5 separate regions of the Homo sapiens genome follow, and regions 2, 3, 4 and 5 are each reported to be linked to region 1. The links are microRNA targets in miRTarBase. Many come from high-throughput screens and were not tested one by one. Region 1 holds a microRNA gene; each other region holds the end of a gene's coding sequence.

Evidence for each region. The annotated mature microRNA hsa-miR-6515-5p reads UUGGAGGGUGUGGAAGACAUC and lies in region 1 at 4,852-4,872, shown strand. An mRNA with a match to its seed (bases 2 to 7 or 8) in the 3' UTR can be bound and repressed. Matches are read on the target gene's strand: a 7mer-m8 pairs with bases 2 to 8, a 7mer-A1 pairs with bases 2 to 7 and ends in A, and an 8mer does both.
Region 2: the mRNA of UBE2D3 is a reported target of hsa-miR-6515-5p. Seed matches in the 3' UTR shown: 7mer-m8 at 4,583-4,589.
Region 3: miRTarBase lists CLDND1 as a target of hsa-miR-6515-5p. Seed matches in the 3' UTR shown: 7mer-m8 at 2,418-2,424 and 7mer-A1 at 2,364-2,370.
Region 4: miRTarBase lists SFN as a target of hsa-miR-6515-5p. Seed matches in the 3' UTR shown: 7mer-m8 at 2,087-2,093.
Region 5: miRTarBase lists DENND4B as a target of hsa-miR-6515-5p. Seed matches in the 3' UTR shown: 7mer-m8 at 1,968-1,974 and 7mer-m8 at 2,346-2,352.

What each region holds. Positions count from the first base shown.
Region 1 is chr19:12,935,635-12,941,990 of GRCh38, forward strand. MIR6515 (microRNA 6515) reads left to right here and starts at 4,850; the gene lies at 4,850-4,906. CALR (calreticulin) reads left to right here and starts at 2,975. Exons shown (of 9, transcript NM_004343.4): 1 at 2,975-3,136; 2 at 3,500-3,601; 3 at 3,794-3,997; 4 at 4,419-4,513; 5 at 4,609-4,818; 6 at 4,907-5,020; 7 at 5,110-5,253. The coding sequence starts at 3,046. RefSeq lists enhancers at 2,417-2,526, 2,597-2,646, 3,273-4,022, 3,317-3,366, 4,259-5,458 and 2 more and a cis regulatory region at 2,577-3,215.
Region 2 is chr4:102,792,694-102,799,049 of GRCh38, forward strand. UBE2D3 (ubiquitin conjugating enzyme E2 D3) reads right to left here. Exons shown (of 8, transcript NM_181891.3): 8 at 1,690-4,767. The coding sequence ends at 4,722. All of the region lies in intron 4 of LOC102723704 (a long non-coding RNA gene), which reads left to right. Among named protein-coding and RNA genes, the nearest start is that of UBE2D3, 32 kb to the right of the region's middle.
Region 3 is chr3:98,513,376-98,519,731 of GRCh38, forward strand. It overlaps CLDND1 (claudin domain containing 1), which reads right to left. Exons shown (of 5, transcript NM_001040181.2): 3 at 5,510-5,620; 4 at 3,677-3,814; 5 at 2,108-3,504. The coding sequence ends at 3,284. Among named protein-coding and RNA genes, the nearest start is that of CLDND1-AS1, 6.0 kb to the right of the region's middle.
Region 4 is chr1:26,861,902-26,868,257 of GRCh38, forward strand. SFN (stratifin) reads left to right here and starts at 1,248. Exons shown (of 1, transcript NM_006142.5): 1 at 1,248-2,555. The coding sequence starts at 1,312. The coding sequence ends at 2,058. RefSeq lists a silencer at 914-1,063 and enhancers at 933-1,812, 2,957-3,086, 3,297-3,606.
Region 5 is chr1:153,925,629-153,931,984 of GRCh38, reverse strand. It overlaps DENND4B (DENN domain containing 4B), which reads left to right. Exons shown (of 28, transcript NM_014856.3): 25 at 921-1,038; 26 at 1,128-1,293; 27 at 1,382-1,446; 28 at 1,543-2,484. The coding sequence ends at 1,688. LOC101928059 (a long non-coding RNA gene) reads right to left here. Exons shown (of 4, transcript XR_922160.3): 2 at 5,547-5,744; 3 at 3,215-3,350. Among named protein-coding and RNA genes, the nearest start is that of GATAD2B, 5.8 kb to the right of the region's middle.

The DNA.
Region 1 (6,356 bases):
AGGTGTAGTCTTTCTGTGCCTCAGTTTCTTGCTCACATGGAGGTGATTGGAGCCCAGGTTACTGTGAGAATTAAATGCCCACACATATTCACACTGCTTACTAAATTGAGTGTGGCCCATGTTCGAACACTCTTATAAGCAGAACACATTTATTCCTTTTACATCACAATTATTATTTGAGTCTGTAAAATGGGATTACTCATATCCCCAAATCCTGACCCTATATGAGGTTCTGTATTAAGGATACATTTCTCAAAGTCCCTTCTCTCCTCCCATTTTATGTTGATTATTTATTTATTTATTTAGGGAGTGGGTCTCACTCTATTGCCCAGGCTGGAGTGCAGTGGCATGATCTTGGCTGACTGCAGCCTCCACCTCCTGGGCTCAAGCAATCCTCTCACCTCAGCCTCCCGAGTAGTTGGGACTACAGGTGTGTACCAGCAGGCCAGGCTAATTTGTGTTATGTATATTATATATTATATGCTATATATAATATACATACTATTCATATATTTATGCATTATATGTCATATATAATATATTACATATGTGTACATATATATATTTTGTAAGAATGAGGTTCCACCATGTTGCCCAGGCTGGTTTTGAACTGCCGGGCTCAAACAATCTGCCTGCCTCAGGTTCCCAAGGTGCTAGGATTATAAGTGTGAACTACCATGTCCGGCTTATTTTTATTTATTTTTGAGACAGGGTCTTGCTCTGTAACCCAGGCTAGAGTGTGCAGTGGCAACAACACAGCTCACGGCAGCGTCAACCTCCTGGTCTCAAGTGATCCTCCTGCCTCAGCCTTCTGAGTAGCTGGGAACACAGGCAGGCGCCACCACGCCTGGCAATTAAAAAAAATGTTTTTGTAAAAATGGCCTCCTGCTATGTTGCCCAGGCTGGTCTTGAACTCCTGGCCTTAAGCATTCCTCCCATCTTGGCCTGCCAAAGTGTTGGGATTACAGGCGTGAGCCACTGTGCCCCGTGTGTTTTTAGTTAATTTCCACAAGAGTCCTTCCTTCCTCTCTTCTATCATGCAGCAAGTACTTTTTAAGCCTGTTCTGTGCCAGGTGCTGCAGGTGACACTGGAGGATGCGAAGTGAACAAAACAGGCAGTGTCTAACCTCAAGTAGGAAGCGCCAAGCCCACAGGTGCCTGACACAGGAACAGGAGGAAGGGTCAGCAAGAGGCCTGGGATGGTCCCCGGGATCCTCATGGGGGGGACCAGACTAGGCAATACTGAATACTACCTAGAGGAAGTGGTAGAACCCCAACTTCCCAGTTCATTCTCCCCCGTCTTTTTTTCGAGATGGAGTCTTGCTCTGTCACCTGGGCTGGTGGGCTGGAGTGGAGTGGCGTGATCTTGGCTCACTGCAATCTCTGGCTCCCAGGTTCAAGCGATTCTCCCACCTCAGCCTCCCGAGTACTGGGATTAGAGGCACCCGCCACCACGCCTGGCTAATTTTTATTTATTTATTTATTTTTATTTTTAGTGGAGATGGGTTTTCACCTTGTTGGCCAGGCTGGTCTCGAACTGACCTAAAATGATCTGCCCGCCTCGGCCTCCCCAAGTGCTGGGTTTACAGGCGTGAGCCACTGCGCCCGGCCACCATTTCTTTTTTTTTTTTTTAACCAGAGACCCTTGCCAAGTCATTCCCCCCACTCCACTTTATTTTCCTTTTCATTTTTTCCTTCCTCTCTTTTCTGAGTCACAACCATTAGCCAGGAAGCACCCCCTCCCCACCCTCTTTCCTGGATCCCCCTCATTCCCTCCTTCCATAGTCCACTCCCGCGCTCCCAGGTCCAGGGCTTATTTGCCCAGAGTTTGGAAAACCCCCAGCTCTCCTTCCTCCTTTCTACAGCGTGGGGGCAGGGTACTGGTGCCAGTCACGTGCCTCTGGCTTCTGAAGAAGACTCTAGACTGGGGTCGGGGGGTGGGTCCTGCCCATCTCCCTAGCATCTTATCGTCCCTACCATCTGTGTCTTTTTTCCCTCCCCAAACGGAACCCCCTGCCCTCTCGCCTGCCTATAGCCGTTTAATTGCAAAAGCCAGGCCGTTTGTGGGAGACCACAGACAGCGACCCCCTTCATTTACCGGTTGAGAGGAGGGTAAAGGGGCGGCTGCAATCTGGGTAATAACCCTATCCCCACTCCAGAAGTCACAGTCACATCGTTAAGCCTTCCTCCCCTCTTGTCCCAGGACAGCTTTAAAAACGTTAAAAGCATTTCTGCTGGGTAGCATCTGGCCAGGGTCGCCCCCTCTGTCTGCTCAGGAACGTCTGTCACTTCAGAGAGCTTAAGTGACTTGCCCCGGTCACACAGCAGCAGTCCGATAGGCTGCCAGGGCTCTAGGGGCAGAAGGAGGAGAGGGCTGGCATTCTTCCCACCGGCCCGCGTGACTGTAGCACCGGGGTGCAGCGAAGCCCCAAGGGCCCCAATCCGTGAGCTCTCTCCCATCCCAGGCAGGGGTGGGGGAGCAGCAGTGGGGTGCTGGTTCTCAAATGCAAGATAAGAGCTGGCTAAGAAAGCCTTGCCCAGCCCCTCCACCTAGAGGGAATGGGAGGGAGAGAAGCTGAGGGCAGGGTCCCGGTCCCGCGTGGAGACAGCTGCGCTCCCGCGGTTTCTTTAAACGCCCAGATGGGCAACGACGCGCGCGGACGAGGGCGGGGTTGGGTTCAGGTCTGGTCACATGACCTGGCCTGAGGTGCTCGCGGCCCCCACCCCACCAGTGGGCGTCCCCCCCACGCGTGGTCGACCATCATTGGTCGGTGGTGAGGCCAATAGAAATCGGCCATCTGGGAACCCAGCGTTCCGAGGCGCAGCCTAACATAGTGAACCGACGAAGGTCCAATGGAAAAAGACGGCCATGGGCATAGACCAATGACAAAGTGGCAGGGGCGGGCCCAAGGGCTGGGTCAGGTTGGTTTGAGAGGCGGGTGGGTATAAAAGTGCAAGGCGGGCGGCGGCGTCCGTCCGTACTGCAGAGCCGCTGCCGGAGGGTCGTTTTAAAGGGCCCGCGCGTTGCCGCCCCCTCGGCCCGCCATGCTGCTATCCGTGCCGCTGCTGCTCGGCCTCCTCGGCCTGGCCGTCGCCGAGCCTGCCGTCTACTTCAAGGAGCAGTTTCTGGACGGAGGTAACGCCTGGTCCCGCCTCGAGGCCGCCCCGACGACGCGGCCGGCCCCCGATCCTGGATCTGCGTTGTCGCCCGTAATTACCGTTTAGAGGTCCAACACGGTGGCCTCCCGGGACTAGAGCCGCGGGCGATTTCTCTTCTGCGTCCCTGGGGAGCGCGGAGGGCGTAGCGGCCTCCCGCGGCGGGAGTTAGGGTTAGCCCGAGGATCTCTGAAGGCACCCGACGTGTCAAACTAGAGGTTGGAATGGGGAGTGTCGGGGATCTCCTTTCCTGTCCCCAGCAGCTTGTGGCTCTCGGCAGATGTTTGGTGTGGGGGGGGATTAGCACAGCCGCTCTGACCTACCCCTCTAATCCCCCACTTAGACGGGTGGACTTCCCGCTGGATCGAATCCAAACACAAGTCAGATTTTGGCAAATTCGTTCTCAGTTCCGGCAAGTTCTACGGTGACGAGGAGAAAGATAAAGGTAAGAGCCTAGGAGTGGGTGCTCAGATCCGGGAGGACTTCCTGGCAGAAGTCCTTGTCTGTACACACACAGCCGGGACAGTCCCCTTGGAGGAGGACAGGTGGAGGAAGTGGGGGAGTCTTCTCTATTCTCTAAGTCGAGGGTCCTCGCGAGTCAAGGCCCAACGGTGACCTCACTACCGTCCCGTCTCAGGTTTGCAGACAAGCCAGGATGCACGCTTTTATGCTCTGTCGGCCAGTTTCGAGCCTTTCAGCAACAAAGGCCAGACGCTGGTGGTGCAGTTCACGGTGAAACATGAGCAGAACATCGACTGTGGGGGCGGCTATGTGAAGCTGTTTCCTAATAGTTTGGACCAGACAGACATGCACGGAGACTCAGAATACAACATCATGTTTGGTGAGGGCCTGCTTCCTGGTGCTGATCTCTGTCCCATTAGTTAGAGGGAGACCCAGACCCCATTGACTTTCTTAATAATGATTTTTTTTGGAAGGGGAGCTAAAAGAATAAGTCCCAGCAACAATTTATTGCATTATGATCGCAGATCTAGGCTGTTAATTTAATTTGCGTGTTTGTATATAGTTATTTCCCAATCTTACTAATGAGGATTTTGAGTTCTAGAGCACTGATTTTTTTTTTTTCTCCTTTAAACTTAAGGCTCCACCCACAGCCCATTCAGGACAGAATCAGGGTCTGAGTTTCTCTTCTCAGCCTTGACAGACCCGAGTTGAAGAACCAGGTCTTCCTTTTATAAAGAGGGGTGAGAGCCTCGAGATGATGGGTAGTCTCTGACTCTTAACTGGATCTGCTTCACACCTAGGTCCCGACATCTGTGGCCCTGGCACCAAGAAGGTTCATGTCATCTTCAACTACAAGGGCAAGAACGTGCTGATCAACAAGGACATCCGTTGCAAGGTGTGCCTGGGGGTGGTGGCAAATGGCTGTCATGGGGAGATTCAGAGGTCAGCCTCATTGGGGGGTGGCCCCCGCTCACCTTCTTCCTTCTTCAGGATGATGAGTTTACACACCTGTACACACTGATTGTGCGGCCAGACAACACCTATGAGGTGAAGATTGACAACAGCCAGGTGGAGTCCGGCTCCTTGGAAGACGATTGGGACTTCCTGCCACCCAAGAAGATAAAGGATCCTGATGCTTCAAAACCGGAAGACTGGGATGAGCGGGCCAAGATCGATGATCCCACAGACTCCAAGCCTGAGGTTGGTGTTTGGGCAGGGGCTCTGCTCTCCACATTGGAGGGTGTGGAAGACATCTGGGCCAACTCTGATCTCTTCATCTACCCCCCAGGACTGGGACAAGCCCGAGCATATCCCTGACCCTGATGCTAAGAAGCCCGAGGACTGGGATGAAGAGATGGACGGAGAGTGGGAACCCCCAGTGATTCAGAACCCTGAGTACAAGGTGAGTTTGGGGCTCTGAGCAGGGCTGGGGCTCACAGTGGGGAGTGCACCAACCTTACTCACCCTTCGGTTTCCTTCTCCCTTCTGCAGGGTGAGTGGAAGCCCCGGCAGATCGACAACCCAGATTACAAGGGCACTTGGATCCACCCAGAAATTGACAACCCCGAGTATTCTCCCGATCCCAGTATCTATGCCTATGATAACTTTGGCGTGCTGGGCCTGGACCTCTGGCAGGTGAGACTTGGAGGAAAAAGGAGGATCCCTGGGGTACCTCAAGTGCATAAGATCACCCAAGAGGAAAGGGACAGGGTAGGCACCCCAGGTGAGTCTGACTCAAAAATGGTACTTCTTGTAAACAGTACTTCCTGGTCTGTCCCTGTGAAGTCCTCACAGCAACCCCTTTAAGGTTATACTTGCTGTGCACCAAGTACTTCCCCAAGTACTTTTATGCAAATCAACTTCTTTACCCCCAAAGACCTAGAAGGTGGTCAGGTAACCCAGTTAGTTAGCTGGGGCTGGGCACAGTGGCTCACCCTTACAATCACGGTACTTTGGGAGGCTGAGACAGAGGATTGCTTGAGGCCAGGAGTTACACAACTCAACCTAGCTTGGCAACACAGCGAGGAGACCCTATCTCTACAAAAAAAATTTTTTTTTTTGAGACAGAGTTTCACTCTTGTTGCTGAGGCTGGAGTGCAATGGCACGATCTCAGCTCACTGCGCCCTCCGTCTCCTGGTTTCAAGCGATTCTCCTGCCTCAGCCTCCGGAGTAGCTGGGATTACAGGCATGTGCTACTATGGATGCCAGGCTAATTTTTTTTTTTTTTTTTTTTTTTGAGACCGTGCCTTGCTCTGTCGCCCAGGCTGGAGTGCAGTGGTGTGATCTCTGCTCACTGCAAGCTCCGCACGACCCCCCAGGTTCACTCCATTCTTCTGCCTCAGGGTCCCGAGTAACTGGGACTACAGGCACCCCCCACCATGCCTGGCTAATTTTTTTGTATTTTTTTTTTTAGTACAGACATGGTTTCACCGTGTTAGCCAGGATGGTCTCCATCTCCTGACCTCATGAACCACCCACCTTGGCCTCCCAAAGTGCTGGGATTACAGGCGTGAGCCACCTCACCCAGCCTTTTTGTAGAGACAGGGCTTCATGTTGCCCAGGTTGGTCTCGAACTCCTGGCCTCAGGTCATCTGCCCGCCTCGGCCTCCCAAAGTGCTGGGATTACAAGGGTTAGCCACCATGCCTAGCCTCTACAAAAACTTTAAAAATTGGCGAGATGTCATGCATACCTGTAGTCCCAACTACCAAGGAAGAAGGATGATCACTTGAGCCTGGG
Region 2 (6,356 bases), not on the chromosome of region 1:
TGGGAAACCATTAGGTTTGGAGGAAAGCCATGCCATCTGATAAGGTTTAAAGGGGTTGTGTGTGGGACAGACAGATTGCTGCAACGTGGGGAGATCACTCAGGAGGCTACTCCAATAATCCAAATAAGAAATGATATAGCTTTAGATCATAGTGCTAACAGTCAACATGATAAATGGGCAGATTCTAAAGGCTGCTGTTAAGTCTGATTGAAGGTGGAGTGTGAAAAGTCAAAGATGGTGCCTAGGTTTTAGGCCATTGCAATTTAATGTTGACATTTACTGAGCATGGGGTAATAGTATATGTATATGTGTATGTCTTTATAGACATATGTCCAGTTTTAGACATTTTAAAAGACGCCCTTTAGCTTGTCATGTGGATAATGAATAGAAGCTATATGGGAGCTCAGGAGAAATAGCTTGAAGGTTAGTAAATGACGGTGGTTAACTGGGCTCCTAAGATAGTATGACATGAAAGTTCATTGTTTAGCCTTGACTACAAATTTGATACGGTAAATGAGAAATCAAGTTCTATAGAGGATCAGACAGTAGTACGTAAAAATGTAAATTTCATAATATTTTTTACAATACAGAAAAGAGGGCTCTTAAAAAATCTCATTCATAAATAGCATACAGTTTGGGAAGATCTAGATACTGATAATGGGACTTTAATGGAAGCATCCCAAGTAAAAGAACAATTGTCAGAAACATCTTGTATACCTGAATCATATAAAATTTTTCAAACCTGAGGCCAGAAATGAGCAAGTAGTTATAAGGTAGCAACAAATAATGCAACACAGTAATAATTTCTAGGGACTTAAGACATTCGGCGAACTTCAATATATTTAAGTCTTTTTGTTAAAATGGTTCCTCAAGTTTTTTTGGCAGGGGGTGGCACTGTCATGTTTTGAAGCCATTTCCAAATACCTTTAACCGTTGATTTTTCCATTACAATGGGACAGCACGAGAAATCTTAATAGTCACCTTAGGGTACCTTTAATATCTGTCAAACACTGCAAACACCCTTAACATAGCATCATTTCCACTTGGAAAAATTGCCTAGTGTCAGGCCACAGAATGGGATCTGGGTTCAAATTTGTTCAGCTAGCCAACACAATACTTAGGTAGATCTTTGCACCTGATTACTTTTAAATACTTGACGATTGGTTGAATTCCATGCCAGTATGGTTATTCAAATTAGCCAACTGTAGGACGTTAATGTATTTTAATATTCCAAGTGTAAATGTGGAAATCAATGTACTGTATTACAATTCAAAGTACTAGGAAATTGTCAGGTATCAGAAACGTAATACTTAAACACATTCTCTAAAGCCAAAAACAGCTATAAAAAAATAGCTGTAGAGTCAAAGGATTACTGGTTGTAGTCTGTTACAAGGGAATGCTACGAACAGACTTCTGAAAACGGTTCTCAATCTTCACTATTCATCAGAATCACTTGGAGGGTGTTTTAATATAGGTGACTGGGCTCCATGCCAGTTTGACTCAGGACTGGGATGGGGCCTGACAACTTATATTACAAAGAATTTCCTAAATGATGCTGAGATTGTTATCTCAAGAAACATTTTGAGAACCACCTTATTCATAAACTGTATAAAATTAAAAATCGAGCTCACACACATTAAGCTCAAGTGTGGATTTCATGTTAGCTGGAATTACCGAGTAAGACCAAAGTGTCTTTAAACACAGACTTTAATGGTAACAATTCCTTTAAGCTCAATTAACTTCAGCTATTACAAGTCTTATGCAGATGTCACTATTAGACAATATTTAGTGACTTGCACTGGGTTCCTCATAAAAGACAAATTCACTTAAAAGTGTAATCAACAATCATTAACAGTTTTGTTATGCCAACACAAAACATGGCTGAGTTACCCCCCTCCCCGCCCAAATTACTAACACAGCATGATCAGTACCTTAAGTATACTTCAACTAAGCCATTTCAACAAACAAAAAAAAACAAACAAAAAAAAAAGTGAGTGTTTCACTACCCCTGAGACCACTAGTTAACTGTGGTTCATACTTTAAAATGTGAGTACACCCACACAAGAAAGCAAATTAATCAGTTTTAAAAAATCTGATTATCACATTGCAAACTCGCCCAGGAAAAACAAACTGAGTCATTTAAAATGTAAATTTACCATTAACAGGCCAACTGGACCCTAATTCGGTTTATGCATTAAAAGATTTAGGAAATACAAAGACATAGTCAAAACTGATTCTAATACTCAGTTGGGTCCTATACATGGCACTAGTAATGTCAAATTACTGGGTGGAGTGGGGCAAAGAGGGCAAATTCTTAGATTCTTTTAAGATTTCATTGTACATATCTCATGTCCAGTGTCCATACATTCAAAAATGTTGGTTTTCCAGGTACTTTACTGTTCTTTTAAACCTGGAGAAGCCTCTATGGCTTATTCCCTTAGAAGCAACAAATGAAATGATGTATAAAGCATCAAGTCAAAGATACAGAGAACTGGACACATCCACTAATTGTTATGACAATCAAAGAAGTCATCTCCGTAAATACCTAAGGGTTGTCTAAGGCTATAAAGGTCAATTTGAAAGCCAGTTAGGGATCCACCGTGTTTCATAAAAGTGTCTTACACTCATGTTTGGCTTTCAAGAAGTGATATGCCTACTAAAGCTGTTATTTTGAGACTATATGCATCTCAGAAGTAATTTTGAAAATAGAGCCAAAGAGCAGTTTTTCTTACCTTGTGGAGCAGAATGTTAACTAATTTCTCATTCATAATTTGAATCCAAAAAAGTTATGCAGTATGACATCTACCCTGAAGGAGCCGTTTTAAGCAAAACACAAAATGAAAAAATTCACTCATTGGAAAAACTGCGTAGCTGGTTTTTTCCCCAATGAAATGATTACAGAATTAACAAAGCCAGAACATCTTCAGAAGGCATGCATTTCACTTCCAGTTTAGAGAAGAACCTTAAGTCAATAAATCATGTCCAAACTACATATTAAAATGTTTATAAAAAGTAAGTTTTAACATTTATTTCTAGCTTTCCACATGTGTGTGCAGACAAGGAATAAGATTGCACGTAAGTGTAAGCAGTGCAAAAATGTGGAAGTGGAGGAGTCACAGATGTGCTAGAACTTTAAGAAATAAAGCAGTGAACAAAATCAAAATAAACAGGAAAAATGTAAAACTATGGGATCAGAATTAGGAAAGGTGAAGAATGGTAATGCCCTTGTTACTACAGAAGTTAAATCAGTGGCACAGATAGCACTTGTCAAACAAAAAACAATCCAATAGCATTGACTTTTATTCATTCATGTTAAGTCACCTGAAATGATATCTGTTGCATTTAAATGCTCATTAATGTAAATGGCTGAACAAATCCATTTCAATGGATACTCAATATCCCACATAGATAAGTCACTTCAACACAGCCTCATGACAACTCCCACACCAAAACAGTACTTTATTTTGCAAATTTTGACCCATTATTACTCCCATGTTGTTTTTTTTCAGCTGTCAAGTGTACAAGGTGAAGAGAAATTTCAGTTAGACAGGGGCTGCACCTGGAAAATAAATTTCTTAAACTCCATAAACACATTTCAAAACTGCTGGGTCCCAAAAGTCCATCTATGAACTCTAGGGCTGCCAGTATCATGTGCAGCACATTAAAGCTACACTATCCAAATAGCTTATTAATTCTGCATAAATCAGGTCAAGCAATGTGTCAACCTGTAACAGACTGTGCACTTTAACTGAACATGGCAAAATATTCACTCTTTCGAACTTTACATCATCATTTGATGTCAAACAATGAAGCAAATCCCAACAGTATATACAAAAAACAGCTTTGCATTTACAAAAGATTGTTTCCCATACTGATTAATCCAGGCAGCTAACTCATTGGTTTATGCAACTTTATTGAAGAAAAATAAATCAATTACTAGCAGAGCTATTAGTTGATCACTCATCCATTGACAACTTGCATCATTTATTCAGTGCTATATTAAACAGTGTATTGGAAGATAGATTAACTAATAGCTCCAAGCCTCCTAACAATTTAAATGAAAATTACAAAATGTTTGAGACCCTATTTTGGAATACAAAGGGTGTTTGACTTCCAATTTCCATTCTCTGTAGAACAAGAACAGGTCATTCCTTTATTGACATGCATAAAATACATCACATTTTCTGTTCTGCTGATGCTATAAATTCAATACCAATTCTCCAGCCACATCAGTTATGAGCATAAAGCATATCATGTAACCTCAAATCTCTAACAGTGGAAGGCTTAAACAAGAATGGATGCTGCTAGAATAATGCTGTATCCTTTGATGTGACAACTGAGCATCCATCTCCCTCCCCCTCAGATGATTTCTTCAGCATGTTAGAGCAGTGAGGAATGGTTTTAGTCTCATAACCAAGTTAGAGTGAAGACATTGGCCACATAATACACATGCTCCATTTTTTTTTTTAAAAATTCTGAGTCTTGGGCAACTGTTCTCTTGTAACTACTTTACAGTTTCTAAAAGCAGTTATTGTCCAAAGCTGGAAGAACTTAAGTCTTCTCAGATGAGCATGTGAATGAATGGAGGGAGGTAAACAAAAAATAAAATTAAAAAAGATGAGGTCTGATAGGGGAGCAGCCGGATAAGAAAATCAAAAAAGGAACAGTAATTTAAAGTTTATTCCAGCTATAATGCAGGTTATTCTGACTTTAAGGTAGCATCACATGGCATACTTCTGAGTCCATTCCCGAGATATTCTGTTGTACCTGTAAATAAAGATGTTATTTTTAAAAGTTAAAATAAAGAATTCCTAATACTTTAAATGGAAGGGAAAGATTTCCATTTTATCATCTCCAGACTCATCATGAAGTCATCTCTAATGACTATGATTAGAATAAAAGCCAACAAGGGAGAAATAGCACTGGTACTCAAAGCAATGTGGGAAATGAGAGCCTGATGCTCTGAAAGTAGTATTTTAAAAACAACTAAGAAAGCAGCACTGAAAATTGGGAGGCTAACAAAAATCAAAAGACCCTTTCTTTCTCTACCACCGAGCTCATGCTCTAATTTTAACGTGAAGAAATTTTTACAGTTCATTATGGACAAATGTTAAAATAGTATACACATTCTATCTATCCACAGAAATTTCCACCAAGGCCAGAACTAGGCTTTTACTAGAACAATTTTATCTGAATCCTAGAGTTTGGGAAATTACTTGGTCCTGGATATTACAAGAAAAAATGGCTTTGGGACTTAGGTAGAGGCAGAAGGGGAAGATGACACTGGGCAGAATGACAAAGGGCAGTAATTTTCAAAAGGGGTGTGTGTGTGAGTGGTTGTGTTCATCAGAATCACGTGTTACTTTTAATAAGTGTGGTAACTGAGGCTAATAAGCACCACTGAGACCTGTTGAGTACAACAAGGGCATCTTCGTTTAAAAAGATCAACAGGTAATTCACACACAAGCAAGGTTATTACTCAGGAAGACTACTAACATTGATAAATACTATCAGCTTCCCCCTGGATTATACTCATGCCATAGACTACTTACAACAACAAAAAACAGTGATAACCTTAAGAAATGAATATATATATATATATATGCACAGGAGAATTTTTATATTGTTTAAATATTAACTAGCTTTATTTCAAACCAAGAACCAAATATGGTCCAACAACTTTCCTAAACTTTTTAAAAAGTTCTTTCTACCAATTCATTGTCATCTCCTAAGGATACTCTCTCAAAAAGCCAGCACTTTAAAACAAAGGCTTTATTTAGCATACAGGGAGCCACAAAGTACAGCTGACGCTAATGCATGCTTGTCAGTAATGAACATTTAGTTTAGATGCTTAGGCTTAAAAGTGTTTTTCCCTTACATTACTATCTCCCGGCAAAATTTGAACTAAACCACCACATTCTGTATAGGATTGGTACAAAGTCTCAAGCTAAAATTTAAACACCATGATAGTTTGAAAAAAAAAAAAGATACTACATAAATTCCCATTTCTTACTAGTGCTATTGTAACTGCTTTGCCATGCAGTACTTTCAAGCAATAACGGCTACCAGATATTTACTTTCACGTTAAACAGAGACCAAGCAGTTAAATGTACAGTTTTCAGAAGACTGCCATATTTGTTACCTTTTGTTAGTTAATACAGTGCCTTAACGCATGCAGCACTCAAGTGCTGGCAGTACCATAATAAGCGCACCATAGAGTGCAGATCCTCTTACCCTACAACATAGCGTATTTCTCTGTCCACTCTCTTGCTAACCTATTGTACCTAATTGAACAAGTACACTTAGCATTAATTATAACATATGAAAGTTATAATGGTTAAGTTGAACATAAATAT
Region 3 (6,356 bases), not on the chromosome of region 1:
TAGAGAATTTCAGAAAGTTTTGCAATCAGGCCGTGTGCAGTGGCTCACGCCTGTCATCCCAGCACTTTGGGAGGCCAAGGTGGGTGAGTCACTTGAGGTCAGGAGTTTGAGACCAGCCTAGCCAACATGGTGAAACCCCATCTCTACTAAAAATACAAAAGTTGCTGGGCATGGTGGCACACACCTGTAATCCCAGCTACTCCGTAGGCTGAGGCAGGAGAATCCCTTGAACCCAGGAGGCGGAGGTTGCAGTGAGCCAAGATTGGGCCACTGCACTCCAACCTGGGTGACGGAGTGAGACTCCATTTCACAAAAAAGAAAGTTTTTCAATCAGCAAAATTAGGTTAACAGGTTTTCATTTTTGGTGAAAGTTTATATGAAGGCTAAGTATTAAAATGGCCCGATCTATATATGTTATAGTCAATTGAACATGACAGGGTCTATAGGTTTTAACTGTGCTAGTCTGCAATTTGGTGATGTTTCTGGAATGGAAAAACAAACTAAATTGATATGGTTTGTGGTCATCTCATTCTTCTCAAATCATATGACTAAATGAGTTCACCTAGGAGTGATTGTCAACCCTATCCTCTCCCTTAACGCACGTGTGCATGTGCACACACACAACTACAGCAGGTAAAATTTTAACACATTCCCATTAGATTATAAATTTGAAATCCTAGTGTAATATGATGCAGACAGAAGGCACACTGTTATCTGAATAAATTCTAGAATTCCTTTTTTGTTGTTGTTGTTGTTGTGCCAAATTGTGTTTTATGGCTATACTTAATAAATTTTGAAATGAGTCTTTTGCTAAAAATCATAGAGGATATTTACCCACATCATTTAGTTAGGAGCTATAAAATCAAAGTCTTAAAACACATTTGTTAAACTGCCACAAAATTCATTCTGAGGCCGGGTATGGTGGCCCATGCCTGTAATCCCAGCACTTTGAGAGGCCGAGGCGGGCGGATCGCCTGAGGTCGAGAGTTCAAGGCCAGCCTGGCCGACATGGGGAAACCCCATCTCTACTAAAAATACAAAATTAGCTGGGCATGGTGGTGCATGACTGTAATCCCAGCTACTCGGGAGGCTGAGGTAGGAGAATCGCTTGAACCCAGGAGGCAAAGGTTGTGATGAGCCAAGATCGCACCATTGCACTCAGCCTGGGCAACAAGAGTGAAACTCCACCCCAAAAGAAAAAAAAATTCATTCTGAAAAATCTGAAAATTAATTTTTTACTTTGGGGGTTGCTTTCAAAGATTAAATAGGGTTCGCCTTGCCACTGATTTTATCTATTAGGTTGATCAAAAATGGCTGAATATCTGCAGTTTCATATGGTTCAACCTGATTAGAATCAGTTTCACATTTAAATGAACAATACAGCCCTATATATTCCAAAGAAAAAAAGTCTTTGCAGGAAAGATAACCTCAGCTACCCTGCAACATGCTAAAAATACCAACTACAATGCAGCACCAGGGGTTATGGTGCTAGTAGCTTCCCATGTAACTCTGGGGTATTAAGAGGCAGGGACATTGTTTAAAATAACTGACCAATACAAAAATGTCATGCTGCCAAAAATTTTCTTATCCCATTCCCAAAGGTGTTTTGTTTGTTCATTTAGCTTTTCTCTTTTCCACCTTCCACAGAAGGCGCTGAAGGGTAATGAATCTTCAAGAATTAAGATTAGATAGAAACCTGAGTAACCAGTCATTTCACAGGCAATAATTGGCTACAGAGTAATGCTGACTTTGTTCTAAGTCAGAAGCTGACTTGGTTATTTACTATAGAACACAAACATCCACAGCCACTAAATGACTTTACTGAAAACTAGCCACATTAAGTATGACATGTAGAGATAACAAAACTACTTTTGAGAACATGGTTTAAAATTCTGAAAAATAAAAGATAAAGATTTTCTTATTTCTAATAGGGGGAAGGGGTTCCTACATTTCCCAGAAGATCAAACAAGAGACCCAAACACAGGATGTAACGACAGCCCTGTACAGCAAGATGCACTTTGCACAGACAACCACAGAGATTGCCTCCACTTCTTTATCCTAAAGTGTTGAGATTTAAATCAATTCAGACACTCTATATACAATTGAGTCTCTTTTCATTTTTAATTTTATTTTTTAAAAAAGACATTGAGGTTATGGTAAGAAATTATGAAGTTACATTTTTTTAATCTGTCAATTGCTACAGTAGTGGAATAAATAAATAAGTTTTTTAAAGTTCAATGTTTATAGACATACTTATAAAAAAATGACTGAATTAGAAGACATTAAATAATGTTGATACACACCAGGAAGGGATTTAGGCAAGGAAAGGCACATCATATTACCACAAGAAATAAAGACCATAGTTGGAGGTTAATGGACAGCCAGAACTTTAGATCTTGTGGTAGGTTTCCCAGCTCTGGAGGGTCATTATGGTGAAACGTTCTTTATAGTACTGGGCTGGAATAAATAAATAGCAGTTGAGGAATTTTACCTTGTAACTGTAATATAATGTAAAAAGAAAGCACACTTTTAATAACCCTGGTATGTGAAGAGGAAAGAAAAAAAATCCAAAACAATTTGGTGGTACTGAAAATCTTACGGAGAGTTAAAAATAATACTAATCCTCGCCCGGCTGAACTGGAATTCTTGCAGTTACAAAGTTAAAATTTCAAGTAAACACTGTATTTTTCACTTTTTGTAGACAGACACAGTGCAGATACAAACAGCTGCCATATCTCACCTCAGATGAAGCTATGTGTCAATGCTTAGGGAAAATGATCTTAGATAATTTCCCAATTTTATAGAGCTTAAATCTTTGAAAACAGCACTAATACTGCTGGTTGACTGGCTATCTACAACAGCAAAGTGAACATAAAGTTTTGACGATGAGAGGTTTCCCAAAGAAACTAATATAGAGTTTTTAGTTGAACAGATACAGTTACTTTAGTTTTACTGAAAAGTCTAACAGACATTAGCACAACTTGTTTTCGGTCACATTCCTACTCCCAATTTTCTTTCATAAATTTGTGTCAAGTCTCTATCCATTTCTTTCTGTCTAGACCTAGATTAGTTTATTTGAAAGATGGCATCGCTTAAAGTAAACCACATAAATTTTAGTGGTATTAAGTGTGTATTTAGTGGTGAATGTGTATAAATAAAATAGATTTTCATAATAAAATGGTATATCCACAAATAAAAATTAAAAACAATTGAGAGGTGGGGAAAATATCAGTATTATTTTAAAAAAATAAAAATGGCAATTGTAAAGCAGGCAGTTTCTTGCTCATGCCACACGATATGCCTTCATTAAGGTGTACTCTTTCCGGTTGGTGTGAGCAGCCCAGATGAAGAGAGCAGAAGCCATGAACTGTAAGGGAGCAGAGACACAAGCCAGGCAGAAGGACCATCCAAATTCACCGGATACATTGTCAGGGAGCTCTAGTTTCTGGTGGAGTAGTTCAATTCCAGCAACATAACAACTTACTGAGCCCAGTGTACACAGACCTTGGGGGAAAATTTAGAAAACAAAACAAAACATGGCTGGATAAAAGCACAGTAAAGAGCTTTTCAGGCAATGTGACAGGGCAGTTAATACGTGAACATTTCAGATTTATAACTCTTTGGTCCCTAAAGAGACAGGAAGAAGCTAAAAGGTAAGTATGATGACAAAACCTACCTGCAAGGAGATGGAGAATGCCCGTGGCAATGGTGGGATATAAGCTTCGGCAAATGCAAGCACAAAGTCCGATCAAAGCCCCAAAGCACATCAAACCTAAACTCACAAAAGGTAAAAGGAACTGGCAACGCCAAAGATCTGATTTTTAAAAAGAGAGAAAAGAAATGTTACCGTGATTTCAGACCATTTTCCCCGCAATGGCAATTTCTTTCATATTCTAATTAGATCTTTTCTCAAAAAGTGTGAAAGTATTTTAACATTGAGGCCTCTTTTCTAAAGCACATTATTCAAAAGGATGCTACTCTTGTCCTGATAAAAGTAAAAGGACACTAACAGGTAGTAGCAATTACTGAGGGTTCACTATGTTCCATGCTATGTTTGTCTACACATTTTCTGTATTAATCCTCCCAACAACCCTAGAAAGTAGGTACAGTCAGCCCTCCATATCTGCAGGTTTCACATCCGCAGATTCAACTAACCAAGGGTTAAAAATATTCAGAAAAAAAAATGATACAAATTTACAAATATATAGTATAACAACTATTTACATAGCATTTATATTGTATTGGGTATTATAAGCAATCTAAAGATGATTTAAAGTATACAGGAGGATTGTGTAGGTTATATGCTAATATTATGCCATTTTATATAAGGTACTTTAGCAACCTTGGAATTAGCAGGGGGTCCTGAATCCAATCCCCCATAGCTACAGCTGTATTATTATTAATTCCATTTTGTAATTAAGGAAACTGAGGCAAGAGTCATAAATAACTTGTAAAAATAACACAGTAAGTGGTAGAGCCAGGATTTGATACAAAAATCAGTCTGACTCTACCTACCAACAATATCTAGGTCTTTATATGATCTAAAGGCAGTAACAACAAGTAAATTAATGGTAATTATAAATGACCTGTCTTATAGGGCTGTTGAAGAATATATATAAAGCACAAAGCAGAGAATCTAAAGGTAGTTTTAATTATCATAAATCTCTCATCAACATGGGAAGAAAACCTGATGACCTCACAAAACATGCCATTCCATTTTCCAATAATATTCATTATTAGAAATGCATTCATATCAATCTTGACTAAACTTTACACCTTTTGGTGCTGGTTTTGCTTTCTGGAACTTCTTATGTGTTTTTCTAACTTACTTTCTTTCAAACTCTCCTAGTAATAAACTGCTTGCTACACATTCTCTTTATAAAACTGAATACCTACCTCTTATTCAACCTTTTCTCTTACAACATGGTCATTCTTCTGGGCAAGTCCCTATAGCCCTGAAAACTGAGGCTCAAATCTGAAGACAGTATTTCATGGGCTGCCTGACCATCAGGGAATAGGTTGTTCCTAATAAATACTTTCATCTTTTTTGACATCTACCCTTTTGTTACTATCACCTAAGACTGGATAAACACTTTTGACAGGCCTGACAACTCACTGACTCATTTAGAGCTTGCAGTAAACTTTTTTCACATATACTTACCTGAACTCAAGCAGTGGAAAGTGTTTAATTCAAATATAGGAATGTATAAGTTATCTCAACTAAATTTCCTTTTACTAAATGGGCCCATTAATAACATCTTTTGAAGGTCTAGATCCCATCATCCAATGAAGTAGTTGGCCCTGTCAACTTCAAATCATTTGAAATTTGGTAAGCATGTATCTACCTTCTAAAATATCAACAGAATAGAGTTCACTGGATACTGTTAGAGATTTTATTTCACGTTGGCACAATCTACTAACTCATCTTATTCCAAAAACATAGTCCAAAAAGAGACAAATAAAATTATCTTTGTTCCCCCAACTGTCCTGGTGAAATCAAAGTACTCACAGGTCCTAAGGAGATCAATCCCGCTATTGTGGTTTCCGGGATCAACAAATTTCTCCATGAACTGCTCAGTTAGTGTGAAACTCACACATTTTGTGACCACATCAAATGACTCTGGAACAAGAACAATTGCCTGTTGTTTTAATTATAAACATTTAACAAAAATCTCTTTCAGTAATTATTCTCTGAAGTAAAACAGTAAAGGATGTTTCCAGAGGGGTCAGCAACTTCTCTGGCCCTGACTGACACACAGGTTTCATAGATGTCCAATGGATGCCACTGGTTCTCAGTGGCAGGCTGAAGACATAGGCACAAGGAAGAAAAATAAAGTGGAAGCAGTAAAATGAATGGCAGAATAGCTATGTAGAAAGCCTAGGAAGAAGGGGAGGGAACAAAGACTGAAATAAATAGGAATGTTGATCTTCTCATGCAACCGTGCTTTATCAACCATATTCCCATCTCAGGGAATGCCAAATCCACACTTCCAGTTCCTCAGACCAGAAACTTTAGAGTAATTCTTGTACATTTACACTCCATCAGGAAATCCCAGGAATTCTTCCTTCAAACTATGTCCAGAATCCAGCTGCTGCTCAGTGCTACCATTCTGGTGTGAGTCATAATCATCACTTAACCTGAATTACTTCTATAACCTCCTAACCATAGTCTTCTAGTTTCCACCTTTGTCTGCTGCCTCTGTTCTCACAACAGCCAGGGTGACCAGATCAGGGCTCAGCACTGTATCTGGAGTCAACACCAAAGTTCTCATTCTGCCTAGAGTCCTCCAGGATTTGCCCCAGTCCCACTCCCAAAGTAGGTCTTTAACAGCATACCCAACTTCCCGTCTCTCCCT
Region 4 (6,356 bases), not on the chromosome of region 1:
AGAAACAGGCTGGGGGAGGCATCACGTAGCTGGAATTGCTGCCCCATAAAACAGAATGGTATGTGTCACTGCCACCTCCCTTTCTCAGTCCTCTCTCTCCCCAGGTTGCTAGCGTCCCCCCTGGGGGATCAAACTGGACTGCTTCCCAGCCTCAGACAGAGAGCAGTCTGAGTCAGGCAGGAAAGTGGGACAGCCGGGGAGCTGGACCCCACCCTCTGTGAGCCCCGCTGGTACCTGATGGCATGTGGCTTGGAGAGGGCAGGTGACCTGGCGTGGAGGGCCAGAGGGTAAATCCTCAAACAAGTGGCAACAGGCCACCAACTTGAAAGGGAAAATTGTGTAGTGATGGGAAATGTGTCCAACAAACCTACTGGGTGACTAATTACAAAGGCTGGGCTGGAGCTTCAGAGGCTGCTTGTTAAACACTTCATTAAGCGGCACTCTGAAAGCTGCCACCTGCGCATTCTGGGAGCTCAGAGGGGACCCTGAGGGGGAATGAGGCCTGGAGGATGGAACCATCTTCAGGTAGACTGAGAAGGAGCCTGGATCTCACTTCCAAACACAGTCTGGAGCTCATAGGTCAGAGGCCTCAATGGGAGAAAAGCTAAAGGAAGAGGGTGCAGAAAGGAGTTTCAGGGAATTGGTGGCTATGTGACTTTGAGCAAATCTCACCCCTCTCTGAGACTTAGTGTTCCCATCTCTATGGTCCTGTGTGTGTCACAGAGACATGGTGGGGATTAAATTCGATCGTGAATATGAAAGTGCTTGGGAAACTCCATGGCCCTACCTAAACATGAGTTATCCTCACCTGAACCAAGGGGGGAAGTTACCTGGCAGGATTAGGAACCCCATCCTCCTGAACCTTTATGGGCTCTGTCGAGGCTGAAGCAGCCAGGGGCTAAAGCCGTCCTTAGCCCCTGGAAGGGCACTGTGAAAGTGGATCTGATTTGAGAAGCCGTTTCCTGATGTGGGCAGCCATGTGATGCCAGCCCCGAACAAGAGGGGGCAGCCTGGAGCCTGGAAAGGTGCCAGTGCAGGTGGGGCCCACGCCCAGATTTCTCCTGCTGACTGTTCTGATGATTCACCCCCACATCCCAGCCTTTTTACCTTTACTGCAGAGCCGGAAAGGGTGTGGGGAAGAGAGGAGAGGGAGGCAGGTCTTGGGCCCTGGTCCCGCCCCCTGCTCCTCCCCACCCTTCTCTGGGCCTGGCCACCCAGCCAAAAGGCAGGCCAAGAGCAGGAGAGACACAGAGTCCGGCATTGGTCCCAGGCAGCAGTTAGCCCGCCGCCCGCCTGTGTGTCCCCAGAGCCATGGAGAGAGCCAGTCTGATCCAGAAGGCCAAGCTGGCAGAGCAGGCCGAACGCTATGAGGACATGGCAGCCTTCATGAAAGGCGCCGTGGAGAAGGGCGAGGAGCTCTCCTGCGAAGAGCGAAACCTGCTCTCAGTAGCCTATAAGAACGTGGTGGGCGGCCAGAGGGCTGCCTGGAGGGTGCTGTCCAGTATTGAGCAGAAAAGCAACGAGGAGGGCTCGGAGGAGAAGGGGCCCGAGGTGCGTGAGTACCGGGAGAAGGTGGAGACTGAGCTCCAGGGCGTGTGCGACACCGTGCTGGGCCTGCTGGACAGCCACCTCATCAAGGAGGCCGGGGACGCCGAGAGCCGGGTCTTCTACCTGAAGATGAAGGGTGACTACTACCGCTACCTGGCCGAGGTGGCCACCGGTGACGACAAGAAGCGCATCATTGACTCAGCCCGGTCAGCCTACCAGGAGGCCATGGACATCAGCAAGAAGGAGATGCCGCCCACCAACCCCATCCGCCTGGGCCTGGCCCTGAACTTTTCCGTCTTCCACTACGAGATCGCCAACAGCCCCGAGGAGGCCATCTCTCTGGCCAAGACCACTTTCGACGAGGCCATGGCTGATCTGCACACCCTCAGCGAGGACTCCTACAAAGACAGCACCCTCATCATGCAGCTGCTGCGAGACAACCTGACACTGTGGACGGCCGACAACGCCGGGGAAGAGGGGGGCGAGGCTCCCCAGGAGCCCCAGAGCTGAGTGTTGCCCGCCACCGCCCCGCCCTGCCCCCTCCAGTCCCCCACCCTGCCGAGAGGACTAGTATGGGGTGGGAGGCCCCACCCTTCTCCCCTAGGCGCTGTTCTTGCTCCAAAGGGCTCCGTGGAGAGGGACTGGCAGAGCTGAGGCCACCTGGGGCTGGGGATCCCACTCTTCTTGCAGCTGTTGAGCGCACCTAACCACTGGTCATGCCCCCACCCCTGCTCTCCGCACCCGCTTCCTCCCGACCCCAGGACCAGGCTACTTCTCCCCTCCTCTTGCCTCCCTCCTGCCCCTGCTGCCTCTGATCGTAGGAATTGAGGAGTGTCCCGCCTTGTGGCTGAGAACTGGACAGTGGCAGGGGCTGGAGATGGGTGTGTGTGTGTGTGTGTGTGTGTGTGTGTGTGTGCGCGCGCGCCAGTGCAAGACCGAGATTGAGGGAAAGCATGTCTGCTGGGTGTGACCATGTTTCCTCTCAATAAAGTTCCCCTGTGACACTCCTCCTGTCTCTCTTCCAGTTCTTGGCGATGGGCTGGGAGTGGGACTGGAATCTGACTTAGAGACCCTGACTTTGGACCTCTGAGTTAGGGCCCTGAACTCCCTAGGTGGCTCAGTGGCCCGCACGCAAGACTTTGAGTCCAGGTGAGGCCGGGGTCCGGCTCTCTCCATCACGGCGGCCCCAGTCAAACTGGACGGGACCGGGAGGGTCGGGTGAACCCACAGGAGGCGCCGTGGCTCCTCTGCCGGGCTGAGGGGAGGTGAGTGGGAGCCACGGCGCGGGAGGCTGACGAGCTCTGGTGGAGCGGGGCAGGAAATAGTGAAGTCTCCGGCGTGAGATCTAAGGACAGCGCCGCAGTAGTGAGCGGCACTGAGCACCCGATTTGCAGGCGGGTCACAGTTTCATCAAGGGCTCAGATCTCAGCGGAGGGGAGTACGATCTGAGGAAGGGGTATAGCGCCGCCAAAAAAGCCTAGATCTTAGGAGAGGGTCACGTCCCACAGAGTTCGGAGATGGAGACAAAAGGAAACGGGCTGAAGGGGAGGAAGGACGAGCTGGGTGGGAAGGGCCGCTGGGAGCTGTGCCTACCGAGCCCGCTGCCTGAGCTCTCTGCAGCCAGCAACACGCCGGAACCTGCAGCCGCCTTGCTCCGTCCCGCCTTCGCAGCCCTGGACTGGAGGCGGGGCCCGAGGCCAATACCGCCCAATCACAGGAGGGAGCTGCCCCAGGGTACCGCCCCGGGGGCCTGACTGGCCAATGGGAAAGTGAGCGGCGGAACGCGCGCGGCGAGTTTCCCGCCGCCCGCCAGGCCTGGCGGACACCACGACTCGCTGACTGACTGAGAGGCGCCCCCGCCGCCCGCTGAGCGCCGAGGGGCGGAGCTTTCCCGGTTTCACTCAGACAAGTTGCCGCCCGTCCGGCCCGAGAGCTGGGAACCCTCTAGAGCAGCGGGACGAGCCAGGATCGCAAAATGCAGTGCTTGCCCGTTGAGTCATCAGCTCACCCGGCTGGGCCTGGGCCGGGCCGGCCGCGGGGGTTGGCTGGAAAAAGGCCGCCAAGATGCCCCCACCACACTCCGAAATCCAAGCAGCCCTGGACCTGTCGCCGAGAGGCTTGGATTGTGTCCCTGGCTGGCTGTGCGACCTTGGAAAAGCCGTTATACCTCCCTGGGCCTCAGTTTCCCTCTTGTATCATAAGGGGCTTGGACTAAAGGCTAACACAAGAGTGAAAATGGCGGTTTTGGCCGGGCGCGGTGGCTCACGCCTGTAATCCCAGCACTCTGGGAGGCCGAGGCGGGCGTATCACGAGGTCAGGAGATCGAGGCCATCCTGGCTATCACAATGAAACCCCGTCTCTACTAAAAATACAAAAAATTAGCCGGGAGTGATGGCGGGCACCTGTAGTACCAGCTACTCGGGAGGCTGAGGTAGGAGAATGGCATGAGCCCAGGAGGCGGAGCTTGCAGTGAGCCGAGATCACGCCACTGCACTCCAGCCTGGGCGACAGAGCGAGACTCGGTCCCCCCACCCAAGAAAAAGAGAAAATTTGCGATTTTGGACTCAGACAGCCTGGGTTTGACTCCCAGCCTGCCTTGGCCAAGGCTCTTAATCTTGCTTACCTTTGTGTCCTCATTTATAAACAGGGGAACTGAAAAACAGTACCTTCCTTTTATAGTTGCTGTAAAGTAACCCATAGGACAGACTCAACAAATGTTAGCTTTTTTTTTTTTTTTAAGACAGATTCTCGCTCTGTCGCCCAGGCTGGAGTTCAGTGGCACGATCTCGGCTCACTGCAACCTCCACCTCCCGGGTTCAAGCAATTCTCCTGCCTGAGCCTCCCAAGTAGCTGCGATTACAGGTGCATGCCACCAGCCTGGCTAGTTTTCTTATATTTTTAGTAGAGACGGGGTTTCACCATATTAACCAGGCTGGTCTCAATCTCCTGACCTCAGGTGATCCGCCTGCCTCGGCCTCCCAAAGTGCTGGGATTACAGGAGTGAGCCACTGCGCCAGGACTTTTTTTTTTTTTTTTTTTTTTTTGAGACAGGGTCTGGCTCTGTCACCCAGGTGCGACAGTGGCGTGATCTCAGCTCACAGCAAACTCGAGCTTCTGGTCTCAAGCGATCCTCCCACTTCAGCCTCCTAGTAGCTGGGACTACAGGGGCCTGCCACCACACCCAGCTAATTTTTTATTTTTTTTATTTTTATTTTTATTTTTATTTTTATTTTTTTTTGAGACGGAGTTTCGCTCTGTCGCCCAGGCTGGAGTGCAGTGGCGCGATCTCGACTCACTGCAAGCTCCGCCTCCCGGGTTCACGCCATTCTCCTGCCTCAGCCTCCCGTGTAGCTGGGACTACAGGCGCGCGCCACCATGCCCGGCTAATTTTTGTATTTTTAGTAGAGACGGGGTTTCACCGTGTTAGCCAGGATGGTCTCGATCTCCTGACCTCGTGATCCGCCCGTCTCGGCCTCCCAAAGTGCTGGGATTACAGGCGTGAGCCACCGCGCCCGGCCTATTTTGTTTATTTTTATATGGAGTCTCGCTCTGTTGCCCAGGCTGGAGTGCAGTGGTGCAATCTCGGCTCACTGCAACCTCTGCCTCCTGGGTTCAAGCGATTCTCCTGCCTCAGCCTCCTTAGTAGCTGGGATTACAGGCATGCACCAGCATGTCCAGCTAATTTTTTGTATTTTTAGTAGAGACGGGGGTTTCACCATGTTGGTCAGGCTGGTCTCGAACTCCTGACCTCGTGATCCACCCACCTTGGCCTCCCAAAGTGCTGGGATTACAGGCGTGAGCCACCACACCCGGCCTATTTTTTATTTATTTTTTATTTTTTATTTTTGAGACAGGGTCTGGCTCTGTCACCCCAGGCGTGACAGTGGCTTTTGGTCTCAAGCAATCCTCCCACCTCAGCCTCCTGGTAGCTGGGACTATAGGTGCCTGCCACCGCACCCAGCTAATTTTTTATTTTATTTTTAGTAGAGACAAGGTTTCACCATGTTGGCCAGACTGGTCTCAAACTCCTGGGCTCAAGCGATCCTCCTGCCTCAGCTTCCCAAAGTGCTAGGGTTACAGGCTTGTGCCACCTCACCCAGCCTCAAATGTCAGCTATTAACGAATCCTTCCAGCTTCAATAAGTCTAGGATTTGGCCAGCATTTTTATGCCTAAAGCAGAATCATGAGGCAGGCCCAGTCCTGAGGGGCAGCCTTATTGCCAAAGCTGACCTGCACGCCTGCTGAGCCCCCTGAGAATGCTGCCCTCACATCAGGTGGTCACTCTTCCACCTGGCAAGATGGAGAGAGCTAAGCCCAGGGTCCAAGCTTGGCCACACCAATAGGACTCAAAACTGAAGGGTTTTTGTCAGAACTCCTGCTTCTACAGGGGAAGCCGGCAGGACCACTCTGATGCCTTCTGGGTCCCCTGTTTTCTCCCTTCCTTTCCTAGAGGTGTGTCAGATTTCAAGGCTCCAAACCAGGGACTCTAGGCAGGGCAAGTAACTCCACTCAGATCTAGAGGTGACCTGATTTCTCTCACCAGACAGGTCTGGTGACTCTCTCTTAATGGGCTACATCCTGGGAAAGGAACTTCTTTCTTTTCTCTCAGCCTCTGACTTTTGTCTGTTAGCTCTGGACCACTCGTGGTTGTCCCATATGGGGAGAAGTGAGCTGCCCTAAGGTAGTGTGTCGGTGTAAGGATTTTAAACCAGATGCTGTGCATTGGAATATCTCTAAATCAGATGCTTACCAGGGCTAAATGTGAGCTGGCTTAGGCACCAGCTTCTTTTATTTTCTTTTCTCTCTCT
Region 5 (6,356 bases), not on the chromosome of region 1:
AAATACAAAAAAAATTAGCCAGGCTTGGTGGTGCATGCCTGTAATCCCAGCTACTCGGGAGGCTGAGGTGGGAGAATTGCTTGAACCTGGGAGGCGGAGGTTGTGGTGAGCCGAGATCGCGCCATTGCCCTCCAGCCTGAGCAACAAGAGCAAAACTCCGTCTCAAGAAAAAAAAAAAGAGCATAGACTGGCTGGGTGTGGTGGCTCACGCCTGTAATCCCAGCATTTTGGGAGGCCAAGGTGGGCAGATCATGAGGTCAGGAGATCGAGACCATCGTGGCTAACACGGTGAAACCCCGTGTTACTAAAAATACAAAAAATTTGCCGGGCATGGTGGCGGGCGCCTGTAGTCCCAGCTACTCGGGAGGCTGAGGCAGGAGAATGGCGTGAACCCAGGAGGCGAAGCTTGCAGTGAGCTGAGATCGCGCCACTGCACTCCAGCCTGGACGACAGAGCGAGACTCTGTCTCAAAAAAAAAAAAAAAAAAAGAAAGAGCATAGACTTTGGAGTCTGCTGCACCTGGTTCGGATCCTTGCCGTTTCACTTTACCACTCTGAGCCTCAATTTGGTCATCTGTAAAATGGCATAAGCACCTATCTCACTGGGCTGGTGTGTGGACAACCTTGTGCAGAGCCTGGTACCTAAACAAATGATTCATTCATATTTGTCTATTCGTTCCACCAGTATTGAGTGCTTTTTATGTTCCAGGCACGGTTTTAGGCACTAGGTATGTAGCAGATTACAAAACAGTCCCTGCTCTCAAGAGCTTACATTCTTGTGGGGGATAAGAATTCCTTTCCCACTTCTCTTTGGCTGTGTCCTGTAATGGCCCTCTGTCTCTTTGGCATCACCTGTCCGTTTCTTGTCCTCTGCCTCCCATTCGTTGAGCCTAACTGTCTCCACTATCTTGGCTCCCCCAGGCCCCATCTCCTTGGCTAACCCCTGATCCAGCCTCTGTTCAGGTACGGCTGCTGTGGGATGTACTGACCCCTGACCCCAATAGCTGCCCACCTCTCTATGTGCTCTGGAGGGTCCACAGTGAGTCTGGTATTTGGCCTGGGTGGGGAGGGTGGGTCCCATACCCAGAGGGCTCAGTGATTCTGGTGGCCTTCTTTCCTTTCATCCAGGCCAGATCCCCCAGCGGGTGGTATGGCCAGGCCCTGTACCTGCATCCCTTAGTTTGGCACTGTTGGAGTCAGTGCTGCGCCATGTTGGACTCAATGAAGTGCACAAGGCTGTGGGGCTCCTGCTGGAAACTCTAGGGCCCCCACCCACTGGCCTGCACCTGCAGAGGTATGGTGCTACCATCTGGGTGATCCCTGGTCTGTCCGGGGCTCCACACCCCTTTTCTCTCACTCATACACTTCTGCCTCCACTAAAGGGGAATCTACCGTGAGATATTATTCCTGACAATGGCTGCTCTGGGCAAGGACCACGTGGACATAGGTGAGATTGCAGGCAAGGGGCTGAGGAGTTTAGGGATCTGGGGCCAGGTGTGGGAGGCTGCGGTCCTAACATGTTGACTTCCACCTTCTTCCCTAGTGGCCTTCGATAAGAAGTACAAGTCTGCCTTTAACAAGCTGGCCAGCAGCATGGGCAAGGAGGAGCTGAGGCACCGGCGGGCGCAGATGCCCACTCCCAAGGCCATTGACTGCCGAAAATGTTTTGGAGCACCTCCAGAATGCTAGAGACCTTAAGCTTCCCTCTCCAGCCTAGGGTGGGGAAGTGAGGAAGAAGGGATTCTAGAGTTAAACTGCTTCCCTGTTGCCTTCATGGAGTTGGGAACAGGCTGGGAAGGATGCCCAGTCAAAGGCTCCAAGCGAGGACAACAGGAAGAGGGATCCACTGTTACCAAAAGTCCTGATTCCCCCATCACCAACCTACCCAGTTTGTTCGTGCTGATGTTGGGGGAGATCTGGGGGGAGTTGGTACAGCTCTGTTCTTCCCTTGTCCTATACCGGGAACTCCCCTCCAGGGTACCCACAGATCTGCATTGCCCTGGTCATTTTAGAAGTTTTTGTTTTAAAAAACAACTGGAAAGATGCAGAGCTACTGAGCCTTTGCCCTGAATGGGAGGTAGGGATGTCATTCTCCACCAATAATGGTCCCTCTTCCCTGACGTTGCTGAAGGAGCCCAAGGCTCTCCATGCCTTTCTACCTAAGTGTTTGTATTTTATTTTAAATTATTTATTCTGGAGCCACAGCCCCCTTGCTTATGAGGTTCTTATGGAGAGTGAGAAAGGGAAGGGAAATAGGGCACCATGGTCCGGTGGTTTGTAGTTCCTTCAAAGTCAGGCACTGGGAGCTAGAGGAGTCTCAAGCTCCCCTTAGGAAGAACTGGTGCCCCCTCCAGTCCTAATTTTTCTTGCCTGCCCCGCCTTGGGGAATGCCTCACCCACCCAGGTCCTGACCTGTGCAATAAGGATTGTTCCCTGCGAAGTTTTGTTGGATGTAAATATAGTAAAAGCTGCTTCTGTCTTTTTCCTTCGGCCTCCTGTTCCCTGGGTCTGGGGTAATGCGGGGATACCTTTCATTTTCCCCAGGCTATACATCTGCTTTTCTACCTTCCCATCCTTTATAGTGTTCAGGCATACCCTGCGTCCCCTGACCATGTCTGGTACCGGCTCCTTGAGGCACAGGGAGTTCTCAGAGCAGGAGAAGGGTGAATCTGGTGCTGGCTATGGTGGTGCCAGTCCGTGTGGCACTTCCGGCCCTCCCACACAATCACCCCCTTGTCCCTCATCTATACCCCACACAAAGGCTCCATTCTCTGGGGACCCTGAGCTCATCTCTGCCTTATTTCCTCTCTTCCACCTTCCCCCACCAACCTTCTCCAGTACCTCCACAGGGATGACAATCATCTCCCCAGTAGTTGGTATTGGCAGCCCTCATGCATCCTGGCAGTCATCCTAGGCTGCCTGAGTTGCTGTAGCTGCAGGCACTATTCCTCCAACCAGGGTCTCAGCCTGGCAACAGCACCAGGAAGGCAGGGGCAAAGATTAAGGGACTTGCTGCATGTGGACATCAGGAAAACATGCATCATTTTCCTTATCCCTTTGGTCCACTTAAGAGCTTTTTTTTTTTCTTGTATAATGAAATAAACACAGGAAATGACTCCTAAAAGAGCGGCAAACCAATTACCAAAGGGAATTAGCCAATAAAACAAATGCCTTGGGGAAGGAGAGCAGGCGTATCAATGGAGGAAATAACTTACGAGAGCACATTTCTGGGGGGTGACCACTGGATGGAGAGTGAGGTACTACTTCTGGATGCTGAGTCTTTCAAGCCAGAGGACCATTTCCTATCCTGTCTTGAGCATGTTAGGATGCTTTTTCAGTGTCCTAGAGGAGCTGCACAGAAGAGAACCAAGGGGCTCAGGAAATGCCATTTATTTGTCTTACTAGGAGATGCTTTCTTCAGAGGGAAATTCTCACGCCACCCCAGTTTCTCATCAGACTGCAGTCCCCAGAATAAACCTCTTCCTGTTTCATCCCCCAAAGACCTTTTCAAGGGAGGACCTGGCCTTTTAAAATGAAGTTTCTGTTGAGTGTAGTGAGCTCAGCACTGCACTGAACTATAGAGAGAATTTCAGGGCTCAGTCCCTACCATAATGGAGCATACAGTCTTACTGGTCTGGAGGGCCCCTTTGTTCACAAACAATAACAATAATGAACTCTCTCTCCCAGCTTATGCTTCTCACTTTTGGGCCTCCTACAGACTTGCAGTCAGATGGAAGAACTACAGAATTCTTTAACCATAAGAATATCTAGGCTGGGCACAGTGGTTAACACCTGTAATCCCAACACTTTGGGGGCCAAGGCGGGCAGATCACTTCAGGCCAGGAATTTGAGATCAGCCTGGCCAACATGGCGAAACCCCATCTCTACTAAAAATACAAAAATTAGCCGGGCATGGTGGCTTATGCCTGTAATCCCAGCTACTCGGGAGGCTGAGGCTTGCTTGAACCCAGGAAGTGGAGGTTGCCATGAGCCAAGATCATGCCACTGCACTCTAGCCTGGGTGACAGAGCGAGACCCTGTCTTAGAAAAAAAAAAAACAAAAATCTGGGAATTTTAATAGCAAAGTATTCAACATGATATCTGACACATCTGTGTGTCCTATGGCCTAGGGAGCTGTATGAGAGGAAGGATATGCCCAAGTTATCTGGCCCATTTTCTCTTCCCAGGCTTTGGAGTGTATAGGCTCAAGTATAAAAAATTTGGGCTGGGCGCGGTGGCTCACGCCTGTAATCCCAGCACTTTGGGAGGCCGAGGTGGGCAGATCACGAGGTCAGGAGATCGAGACCAACCTGGCTGACACAGTGAAACCCCGTCTCTCCTAAACACACACACACACACACACACACACACACACACACACACACACACACACAAAAATTAGCTGGGCGTGGTGGCACCCGCCTGTAGTCCCAGCTAATTGGGAGGCTGAGGCAGGAGAATCGCTTGAACCCCAGAGGCAGAGGTTGCAGTGAGCCGAGATTGCACCATTGCACTCCAACTTGGGTGACAGTGAGACTCCGTCTCAAAAAAAAAAAAAAAAGGTCGCCTGAGGCCAGGTGCAGTGGCTCACTCCTGTAGTATCAGCACTTTGGGAGGCCGAGGAGGGTGGATTACTTGAGGCCAGGAGTTCGAGACCAGCCTGGCCAACATGGTGAAACCCCATCTCTATTCAAAATACAAAAAATTACGGCTGGGCACGGTGGCTCACGCCTGTAATCCCAGGGGAGGCCAAGGGAGGCGGATCATGAGGTCAGGAGTTCAAGACCAGCCTGGCCAACATAGTGAAACCTCAACTCTACTAAAAATACAAAGATTAGCCAAGTGTGGTGGCACGTGCCTGTAATCCCAGTTACTTGGGGTGCTGAGGCAGGAGAATCGCTTGAACCCAGGAGGCAGAGGTTGCAGTGAGCCAAGACTATGCTGAGACTACGCCATTGCACTCCAGCCTGGGTGACAGAGTGATACTCCGTCTCAAAAAAATAAAAAAATATACAAAAAATTAGATGGGTGTGGTGGCGGGGGCCTATAATCCCAGCTACTCAGGAGGCTGAGGCATGAGAATCGCTTGAACTTGGAAGGTGGAGTTTGCAGTGAGCTGAGATCACTCCACTCCACTCCAGCCTGGGTGAGAGAGAGAGAGAGACTCCGTCTCAAAAAAAAAAAAAAAAAAAAAATTTGGCTGGATGTGAGGGCTCACGCCTGTAATCCCAGCACTCGTAATCCAGCACTTGGGGAGGCTGAGGCAGGCACACTGCTTGACTTCAGGAAGTCGAGATCAGCCTGGGCTAAATGATGACAAAACCCCATCTGTCTCCATAAATTTTTTTAAAAATTGAGGAAAATATTGTGCCTGCCACTTAATAATTTTATGATGTCATACAAGTTACTTTACTGCTGTGCCTCAGTTCTTCCTCACCTGCAAATTGGGGGTCATTTAAAGATTAACTATATAATCCATAGCTTCAGAAAGGGAACAAACAGGTAGAGCCTGCATTGGGCACAGGTCATGTCCACTACAGTACTGACCTCATGTACTTGTCTTCCTTAAAGCTCGATCATTCCAGATTGAAAGTCCCCCTCCATGGCCTAAATTTTGGTCTTGTTGAAAAGTATTTTCTCGGGTCTTACTTTTATCTTCCTTGGGCTGGTATATACTACCATGTTTTTCATATCTCCTCAAAGCCCTTGAAGGGTGGCATTTCAGACAGCAAATAATGCAATGGACTGATAATGGACAAAGAAGTAGGTTAGGGAAAGATGAATGTACCCTCAAAGAGGGCAATGACTTTGTCTAATTCACTGCTATATCCTGAGCACATGGATGAGTGCCTGATAACCTAATAGGGGCTCTATCATGTGTGTTCAATGACTGAAAGGAGTCTGAAAGCGTTAAAATATTGCAGTTAGTAGAGAAATAATTTTCAGTACAGTATAAGACCAGTACCATGGGTAGAATACCAACAGAAGCTGAATTTAGAGGTAAGAGAGTGAAATTGTTGAAAAAGCAAGGAAAGTTCTCAAAATAGTTACTATATATTATGTTGAATGCTTTAACTATATTCTTGACAGTGCCCTGAGTATTTTGAAGGTATTATTTTGTAATTCTCATAATTACCTGGTGAGCTGGGTACTCTTATTCCCATTTTATAGATGGGGAAACTAGGGGATAGAGAATAGAGATAAGTAACTTTCAGCCAAATCACACAACTGGTAAGAGGGAGAGCCAAGATCCAAACTCAGGCAATCTGACTCTTGAGACCATATTCTTTACCTGGACACCATACTAGCATAAAAACAAGTTTTAATCTATTTAAAATAAGAATTAGGCCAGGCGTG